2 separate regions of the Homo sapiens genome follow, and region 2 is linked to region 1. Evidence: fine-mapped expression QTL. A gene starts in region 1. The other region holds a variant in brackets. All regions are shown on one strand. Distances are between the middles of the regions. Region 1 holds the start of ATP23 (ATP23 metallopeptidase and ATP synthase assembly factor homolog). Region 2 has its middle 17 kb from the start of GIHCG.

What was found. PIP is the estimated chance that this variant, and not a neighbour inherited with it, causes the effect.
Region 2: its variant is the best candidate, but not a certain one, in a credible set for the expression of ATP23 in activated naive CD4 T cells (Schmiedel 2018, PIP 0.86).

The regions. Positions count from the first base shown.
Region 1 is chr12:57,939,531-57,944,911 of GRCh38, reverse strand. ATP23 (ATP23 metallopeptidase and ATP synthase assembly factor homolog) reads right to left here and starts at 3,345. Exons shown (of 6, transcript NM_033276.4): 1 at 3,024-3,345. The coding sequence starts at 3,210. RefSeq lists enhancers at 2,041-2,210, 2,667-3,476.
Region 2 is chr12:57,916,307-57,921,687 of GRCh38, reverse strand. No RefSeq gene overlaps it. Among named protein-coding and RNA genes, the nearest start is that of GIHCG, 17 kb to the left of the region's middle. The variant C/T (reference allele first, on the strand shown) is at 2,327.

The sequences.
Region 1 (5,381 bases):
ACCACCTTCTAAATTGGACCTGCCACTGAAGCTCTTCCACAGGGGATGGTGACTAGGGTACTACAGACTATTTCCAGTAAGAAGCAAGAAAGGATTTGGGGGGTTGGAAAGGAGACAGAAGACTTAACTAGGACCACACTACTTTCAAGTATTGAAGGGGTGCCATGTGGGACTAGATTCAGTTAATATTTCTTCAAAGGGCAGAACAAGGACCAAAGTATGGAAGTTACATGTGGCAGATTTCAGCTCAGTATGAGAAAGGATTTTTCTCCAACAATTAAAGCTGGTGAAACAATAGACAGTAGATTGAAAGAGCCTCAAGGAACAGGTAACTGTATTCCAGGAGAGGTCTGTAGAGTATCTGGCCAGCAATAGCACAGAGGTTTCCCTGTAAGGGGACGGGGAGGCCTAGACGATTCCTGAGGGCCCTTCCACATCTAAGACTCTATGGGCCCGTGACTACTACAGGAAAGTACAAGGAGCCCAAATGCCTCTGATATTAACTTTTCACATAGGCATCTTGTCTGAGAATATAAATGCACAGCCAATTATATGATGTAACCCAAAAAAAGTGAAAAAGAAACTAAGGTTTAAAAAAAATGTTGAAGGCAAAAATAGGTGAGAAAAAGAAATGTGAGATGAGAAAGTCAGGTATAGGTTACTGCTTTACCAACCTGCCCCTTGCAAGAGTGTTCACAGTAGAATAATTATTGTTAACAATACGTATTATTGAGTGAATACCAGGTAGCAGGCACCATATTAAGCACATTATTATTCATGCAACTAGGAGAATTTTACAAAATTAAAACAGTTTCAAAAGTCTGTAGTCCTTGTACTTAAAAAAAAAAAAAACCATGGTTTAGTACTTCAAAAAGGACCTGCAGCAATATTTAGAATAAAATTGCTTTGGTGAAAAAAAAAAAAAAAAAAGAGACTCCCATGAGGTCTGGTTTCCACCACCACGCCCCACCCAGGGATAGCATTTTAAAGCTGCAGGTTGACACTTTAATACCACCAAAAGACCCTCCCAGCCACCCTGCCCTTGGAAGATCAAGGTCCATTGATTCCTACTGGGGCTCATGTTCAGCACCCCACCTTCCTCACATCCTATCTATTTCCACTCTTCCTCCACTGTGTGGCCCTTCCACTGTAAAAACAGCTACCATTTATTCAGCTCAGCTCCTGATATGCTGGTACTTTACATTCATAAAATCAGTACTTTTTTTTTTTTTAGACAGGGTCTCGCTCTGTTGCCCAGGCTGGAGTGCAGTGATGCAATAACAGCTCACTGCAGCCTCAGCCTCCTGGGTTCAAGCAAATCTCCTGCCTCAGCCTCCTAAATAGTTGGGACTGCAGGCATGAGCCACCACATCCAGCTAATTTTTTTTATTTTTTGTAGAGACAGGGTCTCCCTATATTACCCAGGCTGGTCTTAAACATCTGAGCTCAAGCAATCCCCCTGCCTTGGCTCCCCAAAGTGCTGAGATTACAGGCATGAGCCACCGTACCCAGCCCCATAAAATCTATTCTTCACAACAACCCTAAAAAAGGTATTTTCCCCTTCTCTTTTTTTACAATAAGGATAGTGAGGATCAGAGAAGTTAAGTCACCTTCCACACCTGAGGAAAGGGATCCGCATTTGAACCCACATCTAACTCTGCAACCCATACTCTTTCCACTCTATTCCACTTTGAAGCACCTTCAAGGCAGGGTGCTAACTCATCTTTCTACTTCCCCCACCAGAACCTGGGAGGCACTCAATACATATTTGTACAGTAAATACAATATCATCATTCTCTCCCCTTTTACCCTCAACTCCCCTTCCTCCTCCTACCTCCCTGAGTCTCTACAAGCAGGTAATCCCAAGAAGGTTGGAAAATCTTTCGGTGGTTGACTTTTGAACTGTGACTGACTAGCTATGAAATAGTAACCTTGCTTTGGGACAAGTATGTTTAAGACTAATTTTCTGAATGTATCTGAAAGTAAACTTAAGAAGTCTATGTCAATGTAAAGGAATTAAGAAATCTTCTCTAGTGCAATGTCTCTGGGACGGGAGAGAAATTTGTCAATGGGCAGTTGTGTCCCTGTTTAACCCACAGCAGTTCTTAACCTTTGTGGGGTCGTTGGCCTCTTTGAGAATATGATGAAGCTATTAACTCTCTCCCCCGACCAAAAAAAAATACACTTTGGGCCGGGCGCAGTGACTCACGCCTGTAATCCCAGCACTTTGGGAGGCCGAGGCAGGCAGATCACGAGGTCAGGAGATCAAGACCATCCTGGCTAACACGGTGAAAACCCGTCTCTACTAAAAATACAAAAAATTAGCAGGGTGTGGTGGCGAGCGCCTGTAGTCCCAGCTACTCGGGAGGCTGAGGCAGGAGAACGGCGTGAACCCAGTAGGCGGAGCTTGCAGTGAGCAAAGATCGCGCCACTGCACCCCAGCCTGGGCGACAGAGCGAGACTCCGTCTCAAAAAAAAAAAAAAAATGCACTTAGGGGCACACACACACACATACACACGATTTCACAGACCATTTCAGGGATTTCTACGCTCTGAAGCCCATTCATGCATGAACCACTTCCAAGGAACGGTAGGTTTGCAAAACTGCTTTTATATTTTTACAGCCTTGGTATGCCTTAATTACATTTTTACATTTTTACAGCCTTTGTGTGCCTTAATTAACCTGGCTGGCACTTTAAAACTTGGCCTCACCCTTACCCTGAAGTCACAGTGTGGCTGCATAACTTATGTAAGAAATCGGAGGATCTGTCACAACAGTGAGTGACAAAAAAGGGCAGACAAATTCATTCCACAAGCCAAAAACAGCGACGAAAAGGGTCTCAGCGCCACCTCTAGTGGGGAAACTGAGCCTCAGGCTCCCAACCCAGCCCCCATGATGCCCAGTCTGTCTAGACTCTGTGCTGAACCTGAAGCCCCTGGCCAGGTGTTGCCCAGGCCCTTCCTCGCCCACCCGGTCTCAGACCCATTCTGTGGAACCACAGCCTCCAGGTCATGGCTCCTACTTGTCTCCAGCGTCTTCAGGAGCCTAAGCTGGCACTTCTGGTTGCTGGTGAAGAAGCTGGAGAAGAACCCTTGCTGGGGATTCCCCTGGGCCAGACGCTCGGGGAAGACCTGGCAAGAGACGTGTTGCTGCTGCAGCTGCTCCCCTGCCGCGGGGCCCCGCCGGCGCTCGTCCGGAGCTCCCGCCATGCCTCCCGCAGACCTCGCCGCTGCTTCCTCCTGGCTCAGGCGGCCAGAGCGAGACTGGGAAAGGTAACCTCCCTCCCGCCAACGCGACCGCCCAGGCCCTCCCTCCGCAGGGAAGAAGGGCAGCCTGGCTGGGCTGAAGACGTTAGGCGGGAGGGGGCTTTGAACCTGACGGGGAGCGCGGGAGGCGGGGCGAGAGGCGAGGGGCGGGGCGAGAGGCGAGGGGCGGGGCGAGGGATGAGGGGCGGGGCGAGGGCATGGGGCGGGGCGCGGGGCCCGATGCTGTTGGGCGGAGCTGGGTCTTGCGACTTCCCTCAAAGGCTGTAACAACCCGGCTGCCGCGGATTTCGCTGCTGCCCTCCCAGTGTGGGTGACATGTCTTTATAAGCGTTGTTCTGCAGCTTCCTGCTGCCTGCTGAGCTCTAAGGGTGTCCCGCCTCCTCGCAGACACTCCTTCCTCACCTCGGGGCGAATATTGGCCACTAACTGCTCTTGTGCCGCCGAAGGTCTCGGCCATCCTCCCACTCCCTGCCTTCTTCCGGGGCAAGCCAGTTGTCATTTCTGGCCCGCCACTTTCCCGACCCCTGCCATCCCTCAGATCCACTCTGCCCAAAGATGCCTCTGGCCATATTGAAAGCAGTGTTTTTCAGAAACGTTTTAAAACTATAAAGAATGACTAGTCACATCAAAATCCTCAAAATGTAGGAACCAACTACATTTTTTCTTCCCACCTGTACCCATTCGTTTACCCTACTCTTCTGCCCCACCCCCCACCAATAACTCCCTGATAACAAAGCGCACCCTGTTTACTTCTACCTCTCAGCCTTAACTCATACTGTCATTTCCATCTTTAAGCTCCTTGCCTCAGCCCCTATGATTGGGGCCCAGGTCAAATCTGCCTACTCCACAGGGCATTCCCAGATACCTTAATCAAAATTAATGTCTCCTGATCTCCCAATGTACAAAGCACTTTGTACCTGTTAATCATTTTCATCGTAGCCTGCCAGGTTTTATCCAATTTGTGTGTTTCTCTTTTCCTACTAAATTATTCCACTCAGCTCACACATTTATTCAGCACCTACTATGATGGGCCAGGCAAGGTGTAAGAGACTGAGGAAACACATGACTAAGAAAATTGCTAAAGATGAAGAGCAGCATGTGGTTTATGTAAGAAACATATCTGAAAAATATAGGCTCAGCAGGCCTTTAGGGTTATGAACAGTGCTTTATGTGTCATAGATGCTCAATATCTAAATTGAGTGGGATGCTAGGATAGTCATTCATCTGGAATATTATAAAAATACAAACAACTCCTATGTACATAGACTATTAAAGCCAGAAGTCAAAAAAAAAGTAACTACTTTTTAATTAAATTCACCTTGGATACATTATTTCCAATCCTCACTACAACCCTGCAAAGTAAGTATTATCTCTAATTTGCAGATAAAGTGGGCTCAGCAAAATTCAATAATTTATCTAGGACCACACAACTAGCTTTCAATCCAGTTATTGAACTAAAACACACATATGGAAAACTAAGCCATTACAATTCAGTGTGATTAGTTTGGAATACTGAAGGCAGGCTAGATATGCCTAGAAATGGACCATAGCCTATATACATTTGAAATACTATTTGGATTTTTTTCATGCTTTCTTTTTTAATACATAGATTCAGGTGGTTTATGTGTAGGTTTATTATACAGATATATTGTGTAGTGGTGAGGTCTGGGCTTCTAGTGTACCCATCACCCAAACAGTGAACATTGTACCCAATAGTTAATTTTTCAACCCTCACCCTTCCCCTCCCACTCTCCCCACTTTTGGAGTCCCCAGTGTCTATTATTCCCCTCTGTATGTCCACGTGCACTCAGTCTTTAGCTTCCACTTATAAGTGAGAACATGGGGTGTTTGATTTTCTGCTTCTGAGTTATTTCACTTAGGATAATGGCCCCCAGCTCCATCCATGTTGCTGCAAAAGACATGATTTCATTATTTTTATGGCTGCATAGTATTCCGTGGTGTATGCATAACCACATTTTCTTTAACCATCTGTTGGTGGACACTTAGGTTAATGGTTGATTCTATGTCTTTGTCTTTTTGTCATAACAATTTCTTCTTTTTTTTTTCTTTTTCAGAGACAGGTTCTTGCTCTGTCACCCAGGCTGGAGTGCAGT
Region 2 (5,381 bases), 23 kb after region 1:
TTTGGTATTTTCAATGTTTTAGATTTTGGCCATTCTAGTAAGTGTGGCACTTCCTTGCTCTCTCTATCCTGCTGGTGTAGTGTGTAGTGATATCTCATTGTTTTAATTAGCAATTCCCTGATGACATATGATGTTGAGCATCTTTATACCTGCTTATCTGCCATCTGTATGTCTTCTTTGGTGAGGTGTCTGTTCAGGTTCAAGTGTCTGTTCAAAAAAAATTTTTAATCAAATTGTTTTCTTATTATTGAATTTTAAGAGTTCTTTGTTTACTTTGGATAACAGTCCATTTTCAGGTATGTCTTTTGCAAATATTTTCTTCCAGTATGTGGCTTGTCTTCTCATTATCTTGACCTCCTTGGGTTTTTTTAACTTAAATCTAGACCTAAAGATCATACCATAGTAGTAAATATACTTCTCACTTCTCTTTACAACTGCGATTATTTTCTTTGTTTATAGCTGAAGTTTTTCAAAAGGATTGTATATTTGTATAATTTAACAAGAAGCTATTTTGTATTTTGAAATAGATAAAATAATATGCCCATCAGATAATTACCTTCATTATGTTTTATGATGTGGCAAATATTAGTATATTTGAGATGCCAATAATTGCCTGCCTGCCCACATCTTCTAAGAGAATTTGTTTTGTGCACAGATTTTCTTTCCCTAAAGGATAATTTAGCCAGATGTAGCAGCTCAGACCTGTAATCCCAGCACTTTGACAAACGAATCGCTTTGAGCTGCTCAGGAGTTCAAGACTAGCCTGGGCAACATGGCAAAACCCCATCTCTACAAATACTATAAAAACAGCCGGGCATGGTGGTTCATGACTGTAGTCTCAAATACTCAGGAGGCTGAGGCTGAAGAATCGCTTGAGCCCAGGAAGCAGAGGTTACAGTGAGCTGAGATCATGCCACTGCACCCCAGCCTGGGCAACAGAGCGGACCCTGTCTCAAAAAAAAAAAAAAAAGATAATTTACTAGACCAAATAACCACTTATCATCACCATGACTGATCAGGCCAGGGAGTGCAACACTGCATTCAATACCATTCTCCCATTTTCCTTTTCCATCCTAATAGAAAAATTCCTTTGTTATCTTAGCCGAATGTATTATGACAGGCTGAGCACCTTCTCAGCCTAAGAGGATGAACCTTGATTAGTCTAAGTCAACCACGATGACTGTCATTTGCCTTGCTTAATCTGCCAATGAGATGTAAGGGGAAGTTTGTTGGACGCCTTCTGGAGACATTTTTCCCTGCCCTAAAAATGGAACACATAGGAACAGAAAACCAAACACCGTATGTTCTCACTCATAAGTGGGAGTTGAACATTGAGAACACATGGACACAGAGAGGGGAACAACACACACCAGGACCTGTTATGGGGTAAGGGGTGAGGGGAGGGAACTTAGAAAATGGGTCAATAGGTGCAGCAAACCACCATGGCACATGTATGCATACCTATGTAATACACTTGAACGTTCTGCACATGTATCCCATTTTTGTTTGTTTTGAGAAATTTTTTTTTTAATGGGACACAAGAGAAGGACAGTTCATTTTCAGTCTCCCAGTGTTGTCAACCCCTGTAATACCTGAAGCTATAACAGCCAACTTGGAATCATGAAAGAAACCAGCCTCAGTGGAAAAGCCAACCTGCTGAGGATGGCAGAGCAGAAAGATGGGAGACACCTGGGCCCCCAGGTAATGAGGTCACTGAAGACATGCTCTATCTCTAGATTGTTGTTATATATGATAATAAATGCTTAAATAACTTTGGATTGGGCTTTTTGTTACTTTTAGCAAGAGCATCACAACTGATCAAATCAGATACCTAGCTCAAGGGTAACCAATCCCTAGGCCTGCCATTGGACACAGAAATATGCAAGGTATCATTATTCACACTAATGCCAAAGCAGGGAGCTGAGGCCCACATATTTCTGCTTAAATCCAGAGCCACTCTCCAGCTCTAGTCTGTCTGATGCCTAATCCCAGTATGTCTCCTATTTGTCGAATGCCAGGAAAATTGGTCCCCCTTAGTACAATTATCACCCTTTGTTTGAACTAGCTTGAGTGGCTTATAACCAAATGAGTTTGATTAGAGCAATCTGGAAAAGTTAGTACCTTGGGAAATATCCTGCTTTCTTTAAAAAAGAGATGAAGCTTGTCACCTTTAGCCTGAAAGGCATTATAGATGCATTACGCTGCATTTTACTTTTTTAGCTACCCCTATAACAAACTAAAGGAACTAAAGACAGTCCATTTGACGGGCAAATATGGAATCTGGCCTAAAAACTTCACAGAAAATGTTATAGTATATTTTATATAC[C/T]ATGTTTTATATACTTTTCAGGAAGATATTTTAGTACATATGTGAATTATATGTATTTATTTTGTTTTTGCTGAACCTTTTGAGGCTTATTGCAGAGATTATGACCCTTCTCTCCTAAGTACATCAGCATGTATGTACTTAGGAGAATATGAGAAACCAGCCTCAGTGGAAAAGCCAACCTGCTGAGGATGGCAGAGCAGAAAGATGGGAGACACCTGGGCCCACAGGTAATGAGGTCACTGAGGACATGTCTTATCTCTAGATTATTGTTATATATGATAATAAATGCTTAAACAACTTTGGAAGTCATTTAATATACATTCTATCTTCAAATTTCCCCAGTTTTCCCAATATTATCCTTTATACAAATCTTTTTTTACAATCTAAAATCACATATTTCATGTAGTTGTCATGTCTCTTCAGTCTCTTTTAATCTGGAACAGTTTTTGGCCTTGCTTTGTCTTTCATGACAGTGACATTTTTGAAGAATACAGGCCCATTGTTTTGTCCCCATTGTTTCCCTGTGATTCAATTAAAGTTATACATTTTTGGCAGAGACACTACATAAGCAATTTATGTTCATCACATCAGGACACACCTACAGTCAGTTTGTATTATTTGGGAGGATGTTTTTGACCTTGATCACTTGATTAAAGTGGTTTCCACTAGATTTGTCCTCATTTTTTCTCCTTGTATTTAATAAATAATATGTAGGAATATACTTTGGGACTGTGTAAATATCCGCTTCTCCAATAAATTTTCTACCAACTTCCAGCATCCACTGACAATTCTTGCCTGAATAAATTATTACTACTGTAATTGTTGCAGGTGTGACTATCTAGGGCTAGTGGCGCAGGCTGTAAAGGAATTTACCAAGACAATTGTAGGTAAAGAAAGGAAGATTAAGATATGACAATTGCCTTGCAAGGATGCAACAGGCAGCACAGCAGAGAAGGAGTTCTGTGTGCAAAGCTCCTGCAAAGAGGCAAGGGCTGGAAGGAAGTTTTATAGGGCCATGCTGGAGGGAGCTACTTGCGGAACAGGTGTTTGTGCCACAAGGTCGTTGTGCCCTTGGGTTGTTTGATTAGCCATCTCTCAGAACAATTTTTCACTGTTCTTCCCCACCTGGGGCCCCTTTCGTTGCTGTTGCATACTTAACAGTACTCCACAGTAATTGCATAAATGGTGACTTTCTAACTCATCATTACTTCTACATTAGTTGACACCCTGCTCTAAAAAGCCCTCCTTCTCCCTTCCCTATCTGCATTTGCTTGCTTGCTTGCTTGTTTTTTAGTGTCAGTATGAATTCACGGATTCTATTTTATTCAGTGGGATGTAATCCATTAATGTCACCACTTATTTTGATGCTCAAATTATCCCAGGTTTAGCCAGGGAAAGCCCATCAACTGGCTTCTGTGTCATTTTGACATAATTTCATGCTTTTTTAGCACTTCTTTACTTTCTGGCCTAGCAAGTTTTTCAGGCCCATGTTGCATTTTCCCTCCTCTAGCCATGAAAACAGTCCCATCTTCAAGAAGCTCTGGTTCCTTATAGCAGAGAATGATTTTTTGAAAACAAGATTTGGAAACCAAATCTCTTCATTGAAACTTGCTCTTTCAGCAAACATAGCTAGGATGTTGTTTTGTTTTGTTTTGTTTGTTTTAAAAAGAGAGAGAGAAAAAAAAGCATGAGTCCATGCCAATCCAGCACCACCACAAGGTTCTTCCTTACCTTTCCCCATTCTGTATTGGAATCTCCCTCCTCTAAGCAAGAACTCTGGCTTCCAACAATTATTAATGTAATTATTTTCTCAGTACTATAAGATACAAAAAATAATTTCAGAACTGCTACACCTGTGCCACCACCAACAATAAAGCTGTCAAGTAGAGCTCAAAATTTCTCACAGCTCTTTTGTTTTTAAACTCAGGATATATAGTCAAGATACTTTGTCCAAATGTTACTTGAGTAAGTTGGGTTTCTTTTTCCTTCTGTGTGATTCTCCATTTTATGTACAGTTCAGTTTCTTTGTTTCTATTTGTATCCAATTTTAGGACTTCTTCCCCAAAATTGTTGATTATTTTATAAACATGTAAAGCATTAACATGATTCCAAAAGTCAAAATAATACACTGGATTGGAAATGTGTCATTCTCTCTCCGTATTACTTCCATTCTGTTCCCACTCTCCCCCTGCAAGTAACAAATTTCAGTCCTTTCTGTTTTGTCCTTCTAATATGTCTTTTTCTTAAAAGGAAGTAGATATATGTGTATTGTGTCCCCCTATTTCTTATCTATGGTAGTGGCATACTATTATTCTCTTTTGCTCTTTGCTTTTTTCACTTGCAGCAAAGCCTGAAAATCACTCCTTAAAAGCTGCCTAATATGCTATTATGTGTATGTAATATAATATAATTTATTCACTCTGTATTCTCGTGTATACACATTTAGGTTATTTCCATTTTGCAATTACAAATAATACTGCAAATAAAATCTTACACGTGCCATTTTATATTGTTGAAGATGTTTCTTCAGGTTAAATTCTTAGAAGTGAGATCATTGAGGCTGAGCATAGTGGCTCATGCCTGAATTTCCAGCACTTTGGGAGGCTGAGGCAAGCAGATCACTTGAGGTAAGGAGTTCGAGACCAGCCTGGACAACATGATGAAACTCGGTCCTACTAAAAATACAAAAATTAACCAGGCATGGTGGCACACGACTGTAATCCCAGCTACTCAGGAGGCTGAGGCAGGAGAATGGCTTGAACTCAGGAGGCGGAGGTTGCAGTGAGCTGAGATCGCACCACTGCACTCCAGCCTGGGCAACAGAGTAAGACTCCATCTCAAAAAGCAACAACAACAAAAAGAAGTAAGATCACTGGGTCAAAGGGTAAACTTATATGTAGTTTTCATAGATGTTGCCAAACTATGGGGATTATGTCATTTTGCATTTAGTACCAGCAATCTATGAGAATGCCTGTTTTTCCATAGCCTACCTGACAAAGGTCACAGTGTTGTGTTTTTGGTTTGTTTTTTTGTGGAGGGAGTGGTTCTTTTTCTT